Linked DNA regions of Homo sapiens. Changing the gene in region 2 together with the main gene of any one other region gives a genetic interaction. Each region holds a gene or a part of one and is shown on either strand. Other genes may lie near its edges.

Region 1 (10,850 bases), on a different chromosome or scaffold from region 2:
GGTCTGGATTCAAACCCAGCTTTCCTGCTTCCAAGCCTCTATCCCATAGATGCCTCTCAGCCTCCCGGAATCCAAGCCAATTATTTGTTTCCTGGTTTTAAAGTGCCCATCTGTTAATTTCTTATAATTCGTAAAAAAGTAGAAGTAGATTTTGGATAAAATAAGTTGTAGGTGGGAACTTGGGGGGACAGGTGGCAGAAAATGCAGAAGACCTGTGAAAAGATCATGGCATCAGGCAGAGGAAATAGGATTGCAGGCTCTGTCCATTTGGGGTCTGTTGTCTGCCCATGCAAGGGCCAAGGAGGGAGCTCCCTTCCCCCAACTCCCCCCTCTTCCCTGCCCCTCCCTCACTGTGATGTGGCACCCAAGGAGCCCTCTGGCGGGACAAGCTGTGTCTGTCTGACCAAAGGCAGACACTGCAGCAGCCTGGAATTCATTCTGGAAGAAAACCTTGAACATTCCTCTGTTTGAGTCAGACTCTGATGGTTTTTTTTTTTGTTTTTTTAAATTATTATTATTATACTTTAATTTTAGGGTACATGGGCACAATGTGCGGGTTAGTTACATATGTATACATGTGCCATGCTGGTGCGCTGCACCCACTAACTCGTCATCTAGCATTAGGTATATCTCCCAATGCTATCCCTCCCCCCTCCCCCCACCCCATGGTTTTAAAAAATAGGCTTATACCAATAGGCAACTCAAACTCCATCAATCCTGAGGCGCCTAGAACAGTACACGCAAAGACAAGTCAGGGGAAGCAGGCTCAGAGCTGCCACTCTGACTGCAAGCAGTAATGATCATAATCATACTTCATCCGTGCAAGCCTGTACTGCTCATAAAACACTGCTCTCCCTCATGAGCGCATCATAGGCTTAATTGATGCTGTGAGCATTGTTACTTCCATTTTATATTTCAAGAAACCGTGGCCCAGGTTGCACTCCTATTCAAGGGACAGAGCTGGAACTTGAACTAAAATCTTTTGATCATTGGATTCTTCGTGATCTAGTTAGTGAAATATGCCTTGTTGTCACGGTGGGAGGAGGAGAGGAAGCATAGAGGATTGAGTTCCCTGCAAGTTAAAGAAGGCTTCAGCTTGCTAGTTGTCAGCTTGAGATGAAAGACTGGTTGCTCTGAGATGTGGCTGCCGGCAAGTCAGGTGTAGACCCGCTGGGCAGGAGTGAGGCCACCTTTGCTGTTGTGCCTCTACACACACAAAGAATCTATCCAAATTTCAAGTATGTGTAGACAGTTCTACTGCAGGATAAATAGGGCATCTCTTGGCACTCCTGAAAGGTTAATAAGCCCAAGGCAGATAGAATGATCTGGTATGAGTTGAGCCTTAAAGTTGGTTCTAAGTGATTTGTTTTTAGAAATTATGAAATGATTTCAAGATCATTATCGTGGCCTGGGTCTTCCAGTTATTGCCCTGACTTGAGCCTCTCTTTGAACTCTATAGGGTGAGACAGAAAAGGCCACACCTGCCAGACACTAGCTTTTCTCTTTGTTCTTTTCCTCTGAATTAATTCCCCTTTTCTCTGCCTGTTGGCTATCTTATTGTAGCTGGTAGACAAATCTAGTGCTGTCTTTTCTCTTTCTTCTTGTTTTCTTTTTTCGATAGAGCTAAAATTTGGAATCTGTCTTCCTGTATTTATATATGTAGTTTCCAATGATAATGAGTTGTGCCTGTGATGTCCCAAAACATCAAATATGCCCCCCAAATAAATACTAGTCTGGTAAATGGCGAGAGAAATAGAAACAAACACAGGTGATGTGGCATAAGCATGCATATTTTTGCCCATTGGGGTATTTTAAACAACGATCTTTGTTTCTCTGCCCTCCCTTGCCTTGCACATCTCTCTCCCCAACTTGGTTCTTCCCCACTCAGGCCCACACCCCTCTTTTGTTCATTTCTTCCCTGCTTTTTGTTTCAAACGCACATTCCCATCGTGACTGGGTCTTTCTCTGGAGTTGGTATGTGGTTGGTGGGCTACTCTCCACCCAGTTTGTGTTCATGAAATTGTCTGGTTCACTGTCCACTGATTACTCAAGGGTCTTTGTTGCTGAGAAGACAGAACACTACCAAGGAGCCTGGTTGTTAAGGAGTTTCCTTAGAAATGCTAAGCCCAGGCCAGGCGTGGTGGCTCACACCTGTAATCCCAGCACTTTGGGAGGCTGAGGTAGGTGGATCACTTGAGGCCAGGAGTTGGATACCAGCCTGGTCAACATAGTGAAACCCCGTCTCTACTAAAAATGCAAAAATTAGCCAGGCATGGTGGTGGGCACCTGTAATCCCAGCTACTCAGGAGGCTGAGGCATGAGAATCGCTTGAACCTGGTAGGCAGAGGTTGCAGTGAGCCAAGATCGCACCACTGCACTCCAGCCTGGGCGACAGAGCAACACTGTCTCAAAAAAAATAAAATAAAATAAAAAAAGAAGTGCTAAGCCGAATGTTTAGGAAGGAGAACCCAGGCCTCCATTCTCAGCACCGTATTCCCTTCAGGCACTTTACTTCCAAGAAAAATCTTCTGTGAGGCACACAATCACTAAAGAAAAGTAAGAGGCAAACTAGCTTTGAAAGCAAATCCCATCCCTCAGCCCTCAGCAGGTTGCACAACCTCTAACACACGTGGCCTCTCTGTTGGTGCAGGTGACAAGACCACCTTCCAGCTACAGGTTCGCCAGGTGGAGGACTATCCTGTGGACCTGTACTACCTGATGGACCTCTCCCTGTCCATGAAGGATGACTTGGACAATATCCGGAGCCTGGGCACCAAACTCGCGGAGGAGATGAGGAAGCTCACCAGCAACTTCCGGTTGGGATTTGGGTCTTTTGTTGATAAGGACATCTCTCCTTTCTCCTACACGGCACCGAGGTACCAGACCAATCCGTGCATTGGGTAAGTGACCAGTTGCCCTTCTGTTGGGTACTTAAGGGTGGGAGAATGGAGAAGCAGGAAAATTTAGCTCAAAGAAAGAATTAAGGAAGGCATGGTTAGGAGGGGTGGCCAGGCTTAGGCGTTTAATTTGATTAATGATAAGCATACATTCTCTCCTTTCCTGACGTGTGAAGAAGTGAGTGAACTGTCACAAGGTTGTAAAGATAAAATGATCACAACCCCTTGATTTTCCTGCCTGCCATGCACAGCACCATTTGCTCACATTAATAGAATTCAGAAAATGTCCTCAGGGAGTGATGGATCCAGATTATCAGGGAGGCAGCAGGCAGGGCAACTTAAACTTTCCCCTTGCTTGTAGTAACTGAGGTGCTTTGGGAGAAATGAATTCAAAATTTGTCCCTGTTGTTTTTCTATAAATAACTATAACTTATTTTCACATAATTAGATTAAAATCCTATTTTAAATGTAAGAATTTTTTTTTCAACATAAACACCTGAACTAGAAAAGATTTGACATATTATTAGAAAACAGGTGTCTCTAACTGCTGCCAGATTCTATAATAACAAAGTGTATAATGGCTCAAACTTGCTGGAAGTTTATTTCCTGCTCCTCAAGTCCAACTGGGTCTCTTCATCCATGGAACTTCTCCTGCAAGCAGTGACTCAGGGACTCAGGTGCTTTCCATCTTCCAGGCTTTACCATCTTCCACACATGGCTCCTAAGGTCATGCTGCCTAGAGGGTCATGCATAGGAGGATAGGCCTTTGCCATGCCCGCTCCCACATGCTATTAGACGGAACAGGACTGAGCCAGGAGGCTGGGAACTAGTGTAGCTGTAGGCCCAGGAATCAGAAGAAATAGGATTAGTGAGCAGGTCTCTGCCATGGGACGTTTGTATGCATGCTGGGGTGGGTGGTTGTATGAGGGGATTGCATTCTTCAGCCCATGCAACACAACCTCTACTAGGTTGGTTTCTTTTCTTTTTAGTCTTTCAGGAGTTTCTTTAAATGTCAAGATTATGCAAGTGACTGCAGTGAGTGGTAACTTCCAACTCTTGCTTTCCTCATCTCCACATTTAACTTTAGTGAGGGTTTGTGTTGTAAGGTCCAAAACTAGTCATGAGATAGGAAATAACTAAGACTTAAGTTTTTACTAAGTGTCAAGCCCCATACTAAATATTTTCTGTGGATTATCTCATTTAAATCTCATAACAATCTGTTGAGGTCTCTAAGGTAAGTGTAAGCCAGATTTTAGAGATGCAGAAACTGAGGCCTAGAGAGAATAACTTACCCAATATTATACAAACAGCAAGGGGTAGAGCTGGAATATGAATACAGACAAACTACTTTTAGAGTCTGCATTTGCATTTTTTTTTGAGACGGAGTCTTGCTCTGTTGCCCAGGCTGGAGTGCAGTGGTGCAATCTCGGCTCCCTGCAACCTCCGCCTCCCGGGTTCAAGCCGATTCTCCTGCCCCAGTCTCCTGAGTAGCTGAGATTATAGGTGCCTGCCACCACACCTGGCTGATTTTTGTATTTTTAGTAGAGATGGGGTTTCACCATGTTGGCCAGGCTGGTCTTGAACTCCTGACGTCAAGCGACCCATCCACCTCAGCCTCCCAAAGTGCTGGGATTACAGGCATGAGCCACTGCATCCGGCCTGCGTTTGCGTTTAATATAATGTCTTCTTCCCCATTCAAATCACACTACAACACAGACACTTTACCTTAGGCTGAGTAATAATACCTGTCCCTAAACCACCCTACCCCCATGTCCTAGGGGCTTACCTGAGGATCATGGTAGGTTATGCTGCAGTAACGTAGAGTCTCCAAATCTCAGTGGCTCAACACAATGAACGTTTTTTTTTTGTTGGTTTTTTTTTTTTTTGCTTGTGCAACATCTGATGAGGGCTGAGCTGCTTTCCTTGGCAGCTCTCCATGCAGTAACTCAGGGATCCAGCTCCTTCCATCTTGTGATGCCATTCTCAATTCTTGGTCTTCCAGCTGCCACCAAGGGGAGAGAGCTGTTCTTAAATCCCTGAGCCCTCCCCTCTCCACAAGTCCTCTTTGGTAGCCTTCAGAGCTCCTAGCTCCAAGTTGGGCTGGGTGATAGGAGCAAGTTAGTGTGCTGGTGGCATAGGCTCTTCTGAATCCCTCCAGATCCTTCTGTATACTCTCCCAGAAGCTGACTTAGATCTTTTCAGGTATTGGGAACTGACACTGGTGGAAAAACAGACAAGAAAAAGTTTTAAATACAAATGAACTCTAAATTCTTTAACCACGAAGAGGCACTAGGCATCATCATTTGCTGGGTTTAGCTTCCTCCTGGCGACAGGTGGCCACAGGGACTATTACTACTTTGATTCTGTCTCCAAGGCCCTTTTCAGCTAAGTCTGGGTGTCAAATGTTTTTGTTGAAATTTTGCTGCTTACCAGGAGCAACAGCATCTTAACTGCAAGCCTTAAGCCTTTTTTCAATTCATCTGAAATAGTGATTTTATTTGCTTCTTTTCACCTCTGTCCTAATTGGGCCCTGTCTCCAGACAGATAGGGTGTGTCCCCACTTTCATTCTTCCAAGGCCCTTCCACTGACCGAGACACTAGATTGGAAGCTGGCAGAGAATCAAGGGCTGGCTCTAGGCGCTCAGCATTTAAATATTCAAAGTTATGACACATCATTACTTATTCAGAGCTCACTCTCTAAGTCCTCTAAGGCAGAGCCTGTTGCAGACAGTAAAACTCCTGACAGTGAGTACAAGGCACACTGAAAAGCTACTTGTAAGGCAGGAAGTCCAGTGAAGAATGAGAATGTGGAAGGAAACCTCGGGCCTGAGTTATGTGAAGCTCTCTTCTCTGAGCTGGGGAGGCACACGCAGCGTGGGGGCACACTGTGGCTTGGTGAGCAGGCCGAGCTTTGTCTCCCCACGTCCAGGCAGCACGGCATCCTGTGTCTCCTGGGTTCAAGTGATTCTCCTGCCTCAGCCTCCTGAGTAGCTGGTATTACAGGCACGTGCCACCACACCCAGCTAATTTTTGTATTTTTTAGTAGAGATGGGGTTTCACCATGTTGGCCAGGCTGGTCTTGAGCTCCTGACCTCAGGTGATCCACCCACCTCAGCTTCCCAAAGTGCTGAGATTACAGGGGTGGGCCACCACGCCCAGCCTAAAGTATTTTAAATTATTCTGTTTCTGTTTCTTGAATTGTGGATCCTTCAGGTGGATCCACAGCCAGTCAGTGTATTGGACCTGCTGACATGCCTTCATGAATTGTTTTTCATGCAATTTATAAGCTTTTCATTAGCTCTTCCTTGGAGGTTGTGGGGGCATCCCTGCAGAGCAGTTTTATGTTTGCCGTTGTCGAGAATCTCCAGGTTCACCGTGGGACTAGTTTTTCTGTTAATTTTTCAAATGGAGATGTCTTCACCATAAAAGCAGTGTATTCCAATTGCTCAGGCCTGGAGTTACAGTTTTTATGGGTAATTCATCTCATTCATGGTAGATGGTCAGCTTCCGTGCTGCTTTCCTAGACCAGTAGCTGGAGTTTTTCTGTTTCTGGTTTTAGTAGCACAGCAGCTCATTGTGCTGTTCGGCTTTATGCAGACAGCCCTATTCCAGTGTTCAGCCCTCTGCAGGACTGAGGCTCAGCATCTATTCCTGGTAGACCCTGCTCCAAGCCTGTAGGGCCTCAGTCAAGGCCTGACCCATTGCGGGGGTCCTTGGCATGAGTGCCTGCCCATTTCCTACCTTTTTTTTTTGAGACCGAGTCTTGCTCTGTTACTCAGGCTGGAGTGCAGTGGCGGGATCTCAGCTCACTGCAACCTCCACCTCCTGGGTTCAAGTGATTATCCTGACTCAGCCTCCTGAGTAGCTGGGATTACAGGTGCCCACCACCATGCCCAGCTAATTTTTGTATTTTTAGTAGAGATGGCGTTTCACCACGTTGGCCAGGCTGGTCTTGAACTCCTGACCTCAGGTGATCTGCCTGCCTCAGCCTCCTAAAGTGCTGAGATTACAGGCGTGAGCCACTGCACCCAGCCCCCACCTATTCTTTTAAGTCCATTCATTTGTTTTTTGGTGTTTTCTTTTTTTTTTTTTTTTTTTTTTTTTTTGCCAAAACCAAATACTTCTGAAAGGTCCATTCATTTATTGAATGGTTTCCTCTTCGTTTCTGGGATTTACTTTCTAAGCTTCCAGCCTAGGCTATATATTAAAAAATTTTAAATTACATTTTATCCAGCAGTTGTATATGTTTAGAGTTAGAAGAAGCAGATAAGATGTTTTCATTCCTGTTCCATGACATGGAGAGCCTTTCCATGTCAGCTTGATCCATGATATTCTCCTGAGGCATTAGATTGTTTTCTGGATTTGCCTAGGTCTGGTGTCTTCAAATTGGATTCACTTTTTATACATACAGACACTCCCTTGGCTCTTTAACCATATATATTTTATTTTTTATCTCCCTTGTTAATAATCCTTAATTTAGTAACTCTGTATGCATGGCGCTTATTTGGGGTCTCACAGCACAGACACATGAGAGGGGTAGGATAGTCTCCTGGCATGACCCCAGAACGTCCGGATCTTCAGGCCACTCAGACAGCTGCTCTGGGGTTAAGTCAGATAACTCATCACAGGTGACATCCTATTCCAGTGTCAGTGGAGACTCTCCTAGCGTCTGTGTGACAAAGCTCTTTTCCTAAGTGACTCTGACTTGGTTATAGTAAATTCTCTACAATGAAGGCTTCTCTCTGGCAAACACATCTTCTAATTCCTAACTACTTAACAGTCATTCTTTGCAGTAAAAATGTATCTGCTCATTGCTGTTTGCGGGAGTGAAAGGGAGGAGGTAAAACATGCTGAGCTGTAGCTGAGTTTGTCACAGCTTTCCTGGTTAAACAGCAATCATTATTCAGTTTCTTTTCTCCCTGTCCGCAACCAACCGGACCAAGTGTAAAAAAACCACACACCTGAAGTCCTAAATCATGGGCCAGAGCCACATAGGCCAGGGCAGGATCTTGGAGGAAGAGAGAGGGGGAGAGTTTGGATAGACTTACTTCCTTCTGGGCCTATGATCCACTTGCCAAATAGCTACAGATGGGACCTCAGTTCCTTCTTCCAGCTGGGAATGTAATTTCCATGATTGTTCTTTTCATGACAAAATGAGGAGGTAATGGAAAGTTTGGGTGGCCCGAGGCTGAGGTTAAAAGAGAGTTCCACCTGTCCAAGTACAAGGTGTTCATGAAGACTTCGGGAAAGGAGAAGGGAGAAACACAAAGGAAAGCCAGGCAGGGAGATCCCATCGCTGCCGCCGGCCCCGAGAGGGAGAGCGCGACTATCACAGGAGTGGGGCTGATTGATTCTGTGCAGGGTGGGCCTGTTGCTGGGGACTCTGTGCTGTGCTGTTGTGACTGTGTGGATGGAGAAGGGACTGTAGCCCTGAGAGGGAATGGAATAGCCCCTTAGAGAACCAAAGATTGCCCCTTTACAGAAGGGAGCCTGCCCAGACCTGCCCTGGTGAGTCTGCTTTTTGACAGCATTTAAGGCAGGGTCCTCCTAGCTGTTGCTAAGGCTGTTTTCTTTCCCATGTATGCAGCTTGAATTAGATTATAAAGCCTTTCCCTCAGGCCTGTTAGTGCTCGTTTTCCATCATTTATCCTGAAAGAGCGACTTCCTTAACATGGCTGGAGACCCTGCACAGTCTGGCCCAGCCTGCCTCCCAGGCTCCTCCTCGCCCATCCTCACCCGTTACTCTGCACCACAGCCCCCCGACCTCCCTCTGTCCTTGGGCTCTGTGCTCCCTTCTGCCACAGGACTCTTGCACATGCTCTTCTCTGGCTGGGACACTCTCCCCTCTTCCCTTTACTTTGTGAACCCATTGGTAAAACAATATAAGCTCTCTCTTCCAACTTTATTAGTTCTAGATCAAGCTGAAACTCTTAGAGCTGTAATGGAAAGTAACTCCCTTCAGGAATAGGGCCACTTGGAGTCTCCACAGGAGACTGAAAAGGAGATCACCCCATATTTCAGGAGAAAGGCTTGGTATTAACCTATTATTGATGTGTAATACTTCCTTCTTTTGTAATTTCCAGACATAACTTTCCATTTGAAGATGCTTAGTTTCTAAATAATTTTTATTGCATTTAGCAGAATTGATAGTTTGTTGGTACAATATTTAGAAACGAATGAAGAAGCAGATAAGATGTTTTCATTCCTGTTCCATTCAGCATTTGTCCATGTGCCTGCACATCCTGGTCACTGAGTGGATTGACATGACAAGATTATGTGATCCTGTGATCCTTTGTTGCGTGGCAGCAACATTGATGTAGAAGCTGGTTGCATGGAGTAACTGCACTTACATTGCCCTCACTGGGCATCATCCATGTTCCTTAGCCCAGAGGACACTTCCTCTCCACTCTGCCTAGGCTGGCCCACACCCCGGGTCCCACATACCTTTCAATGCCTATGTCAAGTCTTCCTCCAACCACAGTAGCCTACTATTATCTCTGTTTCCTTTGAACAATTTGTCCATACCATTCATTTATAACTTGGCATATACTGCCTTGCCTGCAGTTTAGGGCTGATGTTTGGAGAACAGGAACTATGTTATTTATCTTTGCTCTCTCTGCTGTGCCTGTCCTGGGGCATGTGGTAGGTGCTGGGTAAATAGTTATTGGTGCCTCTCAAGGCACTCAGTGAATGCTCAGAACACTTGGTTAAGATTTACAGACAATGATGGAAAAGTGACTCTTCTCTTCTTCCTCTCTAGTTACAAGTTGTTTCCAAATTGCGTCCCCTCCTTTGGGTTCCGCCATCTGCTGCCTCTCACAGACAGAGTGGACAGCTTCAATGAGGAAGTTCGGAAACAGAGGGTGTCCCGGAACCGAGATGCCCCTGAGGGGGGCTTTGATGCAGTACTCCAGGCAGCCGTCTGCAAGGTAACTTTCCTTTCTGGTCCTGTCCCTGCATGGGGAGGTCAAGGTAGAGAGCGTCAGTGGGTGTTGGTACTTCCTGCAGGAGTCTTTGAGTGCCCCAGCATGTGGCTCCTGACCACTCTGAAGTCAGAGGGTGAGCTCAGTGGAACTTCTGGGAAATCTACAGCAGTCAAATCAGCCGGAGCTCGGGAATGGATTGGGCTGGTCTGTGTCTCTGTGTCAGGGTGTGGTTGTGTGCAATGGAGTACTGTCTGCTAGAAGACAGCTGTCTGCATTTATACATTGGCTTTTTGGTTTATTTTCAGGGGAAAAAAGTAAAGGTCAAGTCATAGGCATAGAAGCTTGTAGAGCTTTCTGGACCAATTTTGGCAAACCTTAGAGATTGCTCTCTTGGGAAACCCAGTTGAAAAAGAATTGTGTGAGGCCGGGCGTGGTGGCTCACGCCTGTAATCCCAGCACTTTGGGAGGCCGAGGCAGGTGGATCACGAGGTCAGGAGTTCAAGGCCAGCCTGGCCAACATAGTGAAACCCTGTCTCTACTGAAAATACAAAAAAATTAGCCGGGCATGGTGACGGGTGCCTGTAATCCCAGCTACTCGGGAGGCTGAGGCAGGAGAATCGCTTGAACCAGGAGGCGGAGGTTGCAGTGAGTGGAGATTGTGCCACTGCACTCCAGCCTGGGCGACAGTGTGAGACTCTGTCTCAAATTTAAAAAAAAAAAAAAGAAAGAAAAAGAATTGTGTGGCATCTTTGGTTGCAATTCTAGTTGTTTTCCTCCTGCTTCTCTGTGATATATGAATCCAGAGGGAGGGCCTAGACTTAGATCAGAAATGAACTCATGCTTCGAGAGGTTCCAATCTTAGCAAAATATATAAATGGAATGTTGGTGATAACATAGTCTTAAAATAATTTTCTACTGTTGAAACAACCCAATAACAATAACAAAAAAAAAACACTCTTAAATTCACTATCATAACACATACTTTAAAAATCTGTGAGTCTCTTCTTAGTCTTTGTGCATACATTTC
Region 2 (11,569 bases):
TAATTCCTCTAGCCCCACTGGGTTGTGGTCTCCACGACCGAGCTGGTCTCAGCAGCCATCTCTCTCTCTTTTTGTTTTTTTTTTTAAAAACAGAGTCTCGCTTTATTACCCAGGCTGGAGTACAGTGGCACAATCTTGGCTCACTGCAACCTCGACCTCCTGGGCTCAAGCGATCCTCCCATCTCAGCCTCCTGAGTAGCTGGGACCACAGGTATGCACCACCATGCCTGGCTAATTTTTGTATTTTTTGTAGAGACGGAGTTTCACCATGTTGCCTGGGCTGGTCTCGAACTCCTGGGCTCAAGCATCTGCCTGCCTCAGCCTCCCATAGTGCTGGGATTACAGGCATGAGCCACTGTGCCCGGCCTACATCCACCGTCTCACTTTCCCTCAATCTTCAAGTGCTAGACTTTGTATTCCCAGTATGGCTTTATGCTGACTTGAGACCCCTCTAAGCATCATTTCAGTGCCCCAGTGAACCCTAATGTTTAAACATTTGCACATCATAGATATTGTTCAGCATAGTGAAAGGAGTTTTGTACCTATACTATCTCAAGTTTCCAAAAGCTATAAGGGCTAGACACTGATCCTTCCACTTTATTGTTCACCTCTCGAAATGCAGCCTCTACATGCTCTAATAATTGTACTTCCCATATGCAGTTGACTGTGGTGATTTGAGCCTTTTAAACACACAACCTGACTTTGCCTCCCCAACCTCCCCCCAACAAATTACATAAGCTGGATACTAGTATTTCCAGTCTGTTGTTCAGCACATGGAATGAAATGTCCTAGGTTCTCCATCATTACACCCCAACAATTTCAAAAACTGGGCTCTTGGCCTCCTAGTATGTGGCTGAGCATGTTAAAGGAAGTATCATGACAGAACTCTCAATTCCATAACAGACACAAGTGCCAGACAAGGCAACTTCCACTGTACTTCTCAGCACAGTGAAAAAATACACTATCTCATTTTTTTTTTTTTTTTTGAGATAGAGTCTCGCTCTGTGGTCCAGGATGGAGTGCAGTGGTGTGATCTCAGCCCACTGCAACCTCACCTCCCAGGTTCAAGTGATTCTCCTGCCTCAGCCTCCCGAGTAGCTAGGACTACAGGCATGCACCACCATGCCCAGCTAATTTTTTTTATTTTTTTTAATAGATACAGGGTTTCACCATGTTAGCCAGGCTGGTCTCTAACTCCTGACCTCAGGTGATCTGCCCTCCTTGGCCTCCCAAAGTTCTGGGATTACAGGCATTAGCCACCATGCCTAGCCCACTAGCTCATTTTTCTTTTTTTTTTTTGAGATGGAGTCTCGCTCTGTCACCCCAGCCGGAGTGCAGTGGTGCCATCTTGGTTCACTGAAACCTTCGCTTCCCAGGTTCAAGCAATTCTCCTGTCTCAGCCTCTTGAATAGCTGGGACTACAGGCATGTGCCACCACGCCTGGCTAATTTTTTTGGTATTTTTAGTGGAGATGGGGTTTCGCCACGTTAGCCAGGATGGTCTCCATCTCCTGATCTCATGGTCTGCCCGCCTTGGCCTCCCAAACTGCTGGGATTACAGGCGTGAGCCACCGCACCTGGCCCTAGCTCATTTTTCTAACAAACTGTAACACTTAGATATGCTTCTCATGCCTCTTCCAGGATGCTAAATAGGTTGTCACTTACCCACCAACTATAAAAGCTCAACAATTGGCCTTCTGTACCTTGTTCAACACAATGAGGAGCATCTTTAAATGGTGCTGCCCCATTTCCAATGGGATGAGAGTGAGATTTTACTTTTAATGAGTTTTTCAGCCTATTGGATGGATTATCTTGAAAGACACTCCAAGAAACCACTAAAGGAAATACTTTATTCCAGTATCGTGTTCACTGTGCTGAATGGAGTGTTTTACTTGTACTATTTCACTTTACAACAACTATAAAAGCTATTGTACTGTGAGGGTTAATTCCAGCAGGCCTGAAATTAGCTTGAACTGTTTTGAAGTTCCTGCGTGGCAATGACCCCTGGCCAAGAGCATGAAGCATATTGATTAATAATGTTGCTTTTTAACCATCAGTCTGAGGAGCTTCAGGGAAACTTGTACTACCATCAACTTTGCTTTTCGAAAACAATGAGATAAATGATTTGCACCTGGTCTCAGCGAGACCCCTCCAACCCCTGCCACAGGGCTCTGCTGTTGAGGCTGGTTATGCCTTAAGACTATGCCGATGACCAGCAAAATATAAAAATCCCCAGCTGAGACTCCATTTTCGATCCCATTTCTGAGGTGTTCCATGCACACATCAATGGTTTTTGATCCAACAGAGAAAGTGCATCCTGCCACGTTCCTTACAGAAATTAGGACAAAGGAGCTGGCACCTGGCCTATCTGGCCATGAATAGCCTTTGACTGAGATGCTTATTCTTACTTTACTGCTATTTGCTATATTGTGTCCTCTTACTGTAACAAACTCGAGATGTTGGATCTGGTCAGTAATTTTTTAGCAGTGAAACCGTTTAACTTCCACTTAACGATTATACAACTGGCCGGGCGCAGTGGCTCACACCTGTAATCCCAGCACTTTGGGATGCTGAGGCAGGTGGATCATGAGGTCAAGAGATGGAGGCCATCCTGGCCAACATGGTGAAACCACGTCTCTACTAAAAATACAAAAATTAGCTGGGTGTGGTGGCACACACCTATAGTCCCAGCTACTCGGGAGGTTGAGGCAGGAGAATTGCTTGAATCTGGGAGGCGGAGGTTGCAGTGAGCCAAGATCACGCCACTGCACAACAGCCTGGTGACAGAGCAAGATTCGGTCTCAAAAAAAAAAAAAAAGGCAATTATATGACTGCACTTGTGTATGTGTGTTTGATTCAATATTTCAAATGGTTTACATTACCTAAAATATATGCCCCCAAAGGCCTTAAACCTATACTCCCATTATGTTGTTCAGCACATTGAACAGGGTCTCTTCCATGCACTGTCTGTGTTATGCAAGAAACTACAAGATGCTTGTACGTCCCTCAAGATTTTTGGCATTATGAGTTGACTTTTCTTACGGGCACCATTCCAGTTATCCAGCAAATTTTAAGAACTTGGCACTTACATTTCTAATATATTGCTCAGAATACTGAATGAAGGACAAGAGGTCAAGGGGTTTAGAAGCTGTGGTGTTGAAGTACCATTTATAAGGTACCGAAACTACCAAAAGTCATGGCAGGGATAGTGTAAAGGGAGTGACTGTGATGCAGGCGCTGCATCTTCAGAGAATTAGGAGAGACTCAGGGGTCCCTACGTGGCTGCAGCAAGCAGGGCTGGTCTAGTCTAATGACATCAGAGTCAAAGCCAGAGACTAGAGAGTAGGGACACATAATGGTCTTAAGACAGCAAAGAGAATATCACATCCAGACCCAGGGACAGGGAGGTGAGTGTAGGAAGCATGGTTCACCAAAGGAAAACCAGGGTGCTATTACTAGAGTATTGTGGTATGGATGCTAGCTGCTGGGTGAGTGAGTGCCAAAGTGGTCTGAAGATTGCTTTTTTTTTTTTTTGAGACGGAGTCTTTCTCTCTGTTGCCCAGGCTGGAGTGCAGTGGCACCATCTTAGCTCACTGCAACCTCTGCCTCCCAGGTTCAAACAATTCTCCTGCCTCAGCTGGGATTACAGGCATGCGCCACCACAGCCAGCTAATTTTTGTATTTTTAGTAGAGACAGTGTTTCACCATGTTGACCAGGCTGGTCTCGAACTCCCGACCTCAAGTAATCTGCCCACCTTGGCCCCCCAAAGTGTTGGGATTACAGGTGTGAGCCACTGTACCCAGCTGATGGGATAGAAGATTTCTGAGGGAGGTGAACTGGGGGGTCTACATGGTAGACTAGAGGCAGGAGGGGGAAATAAATTACAGGTATAGCTGTAGACAGAGCTGAAAGGGGTAGGGGACAGGGGTAAGAGGACAAAGAGAAGCAAGGTATGGGTTTAGACATAGGGTCATTGAGGACTACGTCTTCACACATTTCATTTGTGTGTGGCCTGGCGCGCTCCTATGGGACCTTCAATTGGAAGCCTCAAGTCCTGTCACTGATACGTTGAACATGTTTGACAGATAGATTGTGACCACAATGCCACTTTACCTTGGTTACAGCTCTTTCACACTTGAATCAGTGGGGGTAATCTTCCCTAGCCCTTAGATGAACACTGCAGCAGGCCTTTAACATTCTCTCTTTTTCTTAGGTATTAAACAGTAGGGGCTCCTACTTGTAGCACAGAGTCTTAGCTGACACAGGAGACACAGTGGGCATTGGAGAATGGGTTCCAGGTAAGTGTCTTCTTGTTGAAGTTGCACAACAGCCTTGGAACTAGTTATGTAATATGGGGTCCGGGTTGTTTTTTGTTTGTTTGTTTGTCGCTCATATTTTCCTACATGTAGTCTGATCACTTGAATAATTAGGACATTAAATTGCAATATCATTTGGATGCACAAGTACAAAATTAACATTGTAGAGCTGACATCTCACAGTTTAGCTAAATTTTGGCATTTGCAGATTTTTAAAAGCATAACTGCAACTTCTTTGACACTTCTATCTTCAAGAGGTTGGGCTTGAACCTCTATGGCTCCTCCCCATGAGGGTGGGGTTGTGACTGCTTCCATCAAGAGAGTAGGGTGGAGTTATGTGACCTCCGAGGCTAGGACATAAAAGGCCACGAAGCTTCCTCCTTGTTTACTGGAATGCTTGCTCTTGGAGCCCTGAGCTGCCATGCAAGACTTCCAGCTACTCCAAGGCCACCATGGAGAAGCCTAGTTTAGGTGCTCCAGTTAGTCTGCAGCCCTAGTGCCCAAGTCATCCCAGTGCAGATGGCAGCTATGTGAGTGAATGAGCCTTGAGATCGGGGTTAGCCAACTTTTTATCTAAAGGGCCAGATTGCATGGCTTTGTGGGCCACATAATCTCTGTCACAATTACCAACATGAATGACTGTGTTTCGATAACGATTATTTGCAAAAAGAAGCCATAGGCCTGCAGGTTATAATTTACTTTACATGATTCTAATCCCCAACCATTTGAGCCTAAGGTCCCAGGCAGATATGGAGGAGCAAGGACAACCTATTTCCCCTGTGCTCTGTCCAAACCTCCGATCCACAGAATTCAGGAATCTAATAAAATGGCTGACATTTTACTCCCACTATGTTTGGGGTGGTATATCAAACACCGGTAGATAGCTGAAGAGTATTGTACAAGGCAGGCCTCAACAAGAAAGTGAGATTTGAGCTGACTTGGAGGAGAGCCAACTGGGAAGCTGTGTGTCTAGGGGAAGAGCATTTCAGGCAGAGAGAACAGCCAGTGCAAACCTTTGGGCGGAGGAGTGCTTGGTATATGTGAGCAATAGCAAGGAAATTGCAGGAGAACAGCTCTGCCGAGGTGTCCTTGGCAATCTTGCACATCTCTCGAGGCCATGTAGGCAAGGTATGACCACGGTCTGACCCAAGTCTTGTTGGACTGCCCTGTGATTTCCCCTAAAGCAGGGATGGGTAAGCCTGGTGAGGAGCCACTGGTAGGCAGTTTCCTATCCCTACCCCATGGGAGACTGCTGCAAGGCCATTTCTCTTCCTTCTCCAACGTTTCAGTTGACTGCAGGACTTTCCATATCCCTCCCTCCACCGCCCAGCCCGCTTCCCTCCAAGCATACAGCGGCAGGCTCCTGTGAAGTCTATAAAACTGCTTGGTGTAATTTAGACTTGGCTACTCAGCGGCAGGGCTCATGTTGTCTTATTTATTTATTTATTTATTTATTTATTTTTGTTAAATTATGTAGACCCATAGGATAACACTGACCCTTCCAGTTTGGTGTTATCTTGTAGGCCTAAGGATGCATGGAGCTGACACCACACTGATTTTGCTTTTGCTGTCGGTGTAAGTAATAACCTGTCTAAACCCATCTGGGCTGCCTGTCTCCTTCCCGTAGCCAAATCTACGGGAAGTGTCCAGCCAGTGTAGGGGTCAAGGGACCGCTTGACGAGACCAACGTAAATTGAAGAGGCGTAAGGAGATGAGGCCAAAGAGGAAAGGGGACCAGGTCACGTAGAACCTCGTAGACCACTGCAGAACCTTGGCTTACGTACGCAGAGACAGCAGGAACCACTGATAGGTTTAGGGAGATTTGAGGAGAGGGACATGATTTGGCTTATGTTATGTTGTTAAAGGGACCACATTAAAATACATTCATTCTAAAAGTGTTACCTTTAAGAAACTACGTATATAAATTAAGTTACTGTTGCCATTATTAGCGTAAGTAGTTACATTTCTCTTACGACTCACTCTCTGCTACTGCCTCTTGGACCCTGCACACCTTGTGGAGGCCCATGAGAGTGACGTGCTGTGGTTCCCCCTCTCCCCACTCCTGCTCTGCACTTTGTCATTCACGTTCATCTCCCTCCTTGAGTGTCACCTCTCTCTGGCTCGTCACGGAGCCACGGCAAAGCGTCCTTTCCCAGGAACCCCTCCCCCTGGGGAGGTGAGCTCCTCGCCGCCAGGGCCGTGTCGCGCACCTCGGGCCGGGTACCCAGGCGGCGCTCGGCGGCGAGCGGAATGGATGTGGAGGAGCGCTCGGCAGGGAGCGCTGCCGCCCTGGCCTTGGCCTCTGGGAGCGGCGCGGCCAGGGTTTTCTGTGTCAGCCAAGCCCGGAATGCGGGGGCGCCTCTGGACCCTCCTCTTGGGTCTGGGGGCTGCCTCGGGCATCCTCTACTCCTCTCCCACCTTCTGTCCTTCCCCATCTCCCACCCACACGTGTGGGGCCCCGGACCCGCGCAGCGGCCAGAGCCTTCCGCTGTGGACCTCCAGTCCACCCCTCCCCTTCACTTCTCTTTCCGGCTCCCTCCGGGTCTCTCAGCCCCCTCCCCTTCCTCTCCGCCCCCTTCCCCGCCGTCTGCCCAGCGGCGGCCTTCGGCCCGCCCCTTCTCTCCAACCCCCTCCCTTTCCCCTTTACGCCCCTCCTCCCCCTCGTCCTCCCGCCCCCTCCCACCCCAACCTGCTGGGCCCGCCGGGACTCGCCCCCCTGCCCGCTCCTCTCCTCCAGCCCCGGCCGGCCTCGGCTCGGCCCCCGGCCCGCCCCTTCCAGCCCTCGGCACCTCCCGCCGGCCGCTTGGCTCCGCCACTCGGCACTCACTGCCCGGGCCGCCCGGACAGGGAGCTTCGCTGGCGCGCTTGGCCGGCGACAGGACAGGTTCGGGACGTCCATCTGTCCATCCGTCCGGAGAGAAATTACAGATCCGCAGCCCCGGGATGGGGCCGGCCCCGCTGCCGCTGCTGCTGGGCCTCTTCCTCCCCGCGCTCTGGCGTAGAGGTGAGTGCGCCCGGCTGGGGGCCAGGCGAGGGGGTGGGGGCTCCCAGGAGGAAGCAGGGGCCTCTGGGGAGGGAGCGCGTCCACAGGGGCGCGCCTGGCTGCTGGACAAGTTTGCAAACACCCTCCACCCACTGCGGTGCCAGAGGAGGGGGCGTAGGCGAACCTACCGTCCACTGACCGCGGCGCCTCAAGCGTCCCGAGGGCACCCAGCCTGGCTTGCGGGTGCGCATCGTGGTGAAGCCGGGTCGGGGTCGGCGTTGCAGGCTCCCCTCTTCACCGCAGAGGAGGAAATCGAGCTCGGCCGGGCGCGCTGCAAGTCCTGAAGTTCCGACGAGTGGAACGTAGGTAGCAGGTCTGGTCTGGGATGCGACGAGAACTTTCCACTAGAGTTGCATGGTGGGGCCCCGCTCTGGCCGGAGTCCCGGGGGCCACAGATCCGGTCTCCCGAGGGACCGGCGCGGGGCGAACGAACGGGCTGCGGGAGTCGGAGCCGCAGTCCGGGAGCCGCGATAGACTGAGGCCGAGCGACGGGCCAGGGGGGGACGGCAGTCCTGGCTGCTCCCAATGGGCCCTTACGGGCATTATTAGTATCCCTTTTTAGGGGCACCCAGAGAGTGTGGGAAAAGGGGAGCGTTCTTTTCACTCCTGTTATGGCAGAACAGAACTTACAGTGCTCGGCAGCGTTTACGTTTATCTGGATTCAGCGAAGTGTTGTTACAGGCTTTTTTTTTTTTAATTTGAGACCGAGTCTCGCCCTGTCGCCCAGGCTGGAGTGCCGCGGCGCGATCTCGGCTCACTGCAGGCTCCGCCTCCCGGGTTCAAGCGATTCTCCTGCCTCAGCCTCCCGAGTAGCTGAGACTATAGACGCGCGCTACCACGTCCGGCTAATTTTTGTATTTTTAGTAGAGACGGGGTTTCACCATGTTGGCCAGGATGGTCTCGATCTCTTGACCTCGTGATCTGCTCTCCTTGGCCTCCCAAAGTTCTGGGATTACAGTCGTGAGCCACCGCGCCCGGCTTGTTCCAGGCATTTTAATACAAGATGCTGGACTGATACGTGGAGGCAAGGAAGGCCGGTTTCATTCTGCTTGAACAGCTTATTTGGGGAGTGAGTGATGAACAGATTTCAAGTTTGATCGCTGATGCACTTCTTGAGGAGGCTGGAATAAACTTACCAGGCTTTACCCAAAAGAAAAAGAAAGGGGAAAAATGCTAAATAAACACATTCCAAGTATTTTCTCTCAGCTAAAAGGTTTCTATTTCCATTCAGCATGTAGATTTTCTCTCTTTTGATCGAGAATGCACTTGACTAGCCTTCACCTATTACAGTCAAAGATGTTTTTTAGGAATACCTGGAAAGCTCAGTTTATAGTCAAGTAAGTTACTTAAAAGTTTTTCCTTTGAGATTTTCCTTTGAAAGCTCATTTACTCAAATGAAAAATTCTTAAACAGTGCACCCACTTTTTGCACGTTAAATTACATAAGCAATTTATAATTTGGGGCAACATAGCAATTTGAAACAAACTTTAAGAGCCAGGCAAAGAACTAAAGCAGTTCTGTTCTCCACTGCCCCTCCCTCCACCAAACCTTCAAAAATTCCTCAGCATTTCTGCCAGCCCCATTTTTCATAATCTGCTGCAAATCTGTTATTTGTTGCTACTAGTGAGGACTGGCCGTGAATAGTCTTGGAGGTAGTGAATGTGGTGAGAACTATGGAGAAAGTAATGGGAACAATAGTTTTGTGTTAAATACTTAAAAATTGGAGTGCTTTTGTTTTTCTAAAATTTTAAAAGGCTGTAATAACAAATTTTTGTAGCTGACAATCAACTTTAATCAGACAATCATAAAAAGGCCTTTTAAAATCCACCCAGCTGGAAGAATGAAAAGTTTCACCAATCGTTCTTGCACTTTTTGCTTTTGGTTTTGAACTTTACCTATGAGATGTGTGACAGTTTTACATCTCACCTTGTGAAAAGCTTAAAGAATGGGATTCTCACTGGCAGAATTACAGCACAAAGGAGTGCTGTATGAAGAAATTAAACATGGAAATTAGACTCTTCATCTAATTTTAAGATTTTCCTATTACACATTGTGGGTCTGAGTGCTTTGCTGACCACACAGGGGAGACAGAGAGAGAGACAATGAGAATATGTGTGTAGATTCTACACTGTTAGCAGTATAGAAGAATGGGTAAATAAAATTTAAGCATCACTTTAACCCAGGAAATCCCCTCTGCCCCCCAACACACATACACACTACACGTCTCACAAAGACATGCACACACAGAACTGGAACTGCCAAACCAGGAGCATTTCGAGGCTTTCCAGTCTTTCCTTTCTGCTCAGTCTCTGATGGGGGTGCCATTGAGCAGCAAAATGAGGCAAGCGGTGGCTCTCTGAAGGGCCAGGGAGAGGATGGAGCAAGATAAATATAAATGTGGATAAAAATGAATGCATTATGAGGACTTAGCTCATGACGAGGCTGTGTGTGCAGCTAAACTCAACCCTTAGAGTAAATTAGGCTTTTAAGATTCTTTAATGTTAATATTTCTTTTCCAAACTGATATTGTAACATGTATTCCAGTATATTGTAAACATCTTCCCAGAGGGAACTTTTAAGTTGTTCTGTTGCTTGTGGGCTTTATTCCAAAGGCTTCAAATGCTTTTTGAAAGTACATCGTGCATATTTTAAAAATGAATACTTTTAGAAAATTATTCTGACCCATTAAAGTGCTGAGTGGAATTCTTTTCTTTTCTTTCTTTCTTTTTTTTTTTTTTTTGGCAGGTTCTCATTCTGCCACCCAGGCTAGAGTGCAGTGGCACCATCACGGCTCACTGCAACCTCAACCTTCCGGGCTCAAGTGATCCTCCCACCTCAGCCTCCCAAGTAGCTATGACCACAGGCACATACCACCATGCCTGGCTAATTTTTTATTTTTTGTAGAGACAGGATCTCACTATGTTGCCCAGGCTGGTCTTGAACTCCTGGGCTCAAGCGATCTTCCCACCTTAGCCTCTCAGAGTGTGGGGATTATAGGCATGAGCCACCATGCACAGCTGAATACAATTTTTAAAAAATTAACAATAATTATGTTTTTTTGTTTTTGAGATAGAGTTTCACTCTTGCTGTCCAGGCTAGAGTGCAATGGCACAATCTCGGCTCACCGCAACTTCCCGCCTCCCGGGTTCAAGCAGTTCTCCTGCCTCAGCCTCCTGAGTAGCTGGGATTACAGGCATGCACCACCACGCCTGGCTAATTTTGTATTTTTGGTAGAGACAGGGTTTCTCCGTGTTGGTTAGGTTGGTCTCGAACTCCCAACCTCAGGTGATCTGCCTGCCTTGGCCTCCCAAAGTGCTGGGATTACAGGCATGAGCCACCACACCCAGCCAATAATTATATTTTTAAATCTTAATTTTTGAAATAATTTCCAGATAATTGTAGAAGGGCCAGTGAGTTACTAGTCAGCATTGGTCAAGAAGAGGTTCAATCTTTTTATGCCTGTGAATTGGGAACATGCTGCTGGGTAGAAAAACTGAGCTGGGACCTTGAACACACATGTGAAACAGTCGCTTTCCATATAATAGCCAGAATGAGATTTTGGAAACGAATCTGATTGTATTTTCCATTTGAAAATCTTCCAGTGGCTTCCTGTTCCCTACTAGAATTTGCAGAGACTCACAGCGAACCTCTTTGACCCATTTCCATTCACTTCCCTCTTGTTCCTACCACTCCAGCCACCTGTGTCTTCTTTCTAGGGCCTGAGCAGCCTTTGCAGTGACTCTTCCCTCTGGCTGGAACCTTTTTCCCAAGATCTCGGCATGCTGGCTTCTTCTCATCCTTTGGGTTTCAGTTCAGAGGTTCTCCTTGAGAAGCCTTCCCCAATAACCACCCCCTGCCAAAGTATCATATGCATACACCCCACTATCCCTTAAATTTAATTTCCTGATAATGCTTCTCACAACCTGATCAGTTCCTTCCTTCCTTCCTTCCTTCCTCCCTCCCTCCCTCCCTCTATTTCTTTATTGACAGAGTCTTGCAATGGCAAATTCTCTGCTCACTGCAACCTCCGCCTCCCAGGTTCAAGCAATTCTCCTGCCTCAGCCTTCCCAGTAGCTGGGATTACAGGCACCTGCCACCACAGCTGGCTAATTTTTGTATTTTTAGTAGAGACAGGGTTTCACCATGTTGGCCAGGCTGGTCTCGAACTCCTGACCTCAGGTGATCCGCCTACCTCAGCCTCCCAAAGTGC

Evidence for each region.
Region 1: of MERTK (region 2) and ITGB5, changing one enhances a phenotype caused by changing the other (phenotypic enhancement), as found in Homo sapiens cells (one study listed by BioGRID).

The regions. Positions count from the first base shown.
Region 1 is NC_000003.12:124,840,359-124,851,208, reverse strand, and holds part of ITGB5 (integrin beta-5 isoform a precursor), read left to right. Parts: intron 1-2,650; coding exon 2,651-2,900; intron 2,901-9,657; coding exon 9,658-9,826; intron 9,827-10,850.
Region 2 is NC_000002.12:111,891,477-111,903,045, forward strand, and holds the start of MERTK (tyrosine-protein kinase Mer precursor), read left to right. Parts: upstream 1-7,130; 5' UTR 7,131-7,259; coding exon 7,260-7,320; intron 7,321-11,569. UniProt on the Homo sapiens protein: Receptor tyrosine kinase that transduces signals from the extracellular matrix into the cytoplasm by binding to several ligands including LGALS3, TUB, TULP1 or GAS6.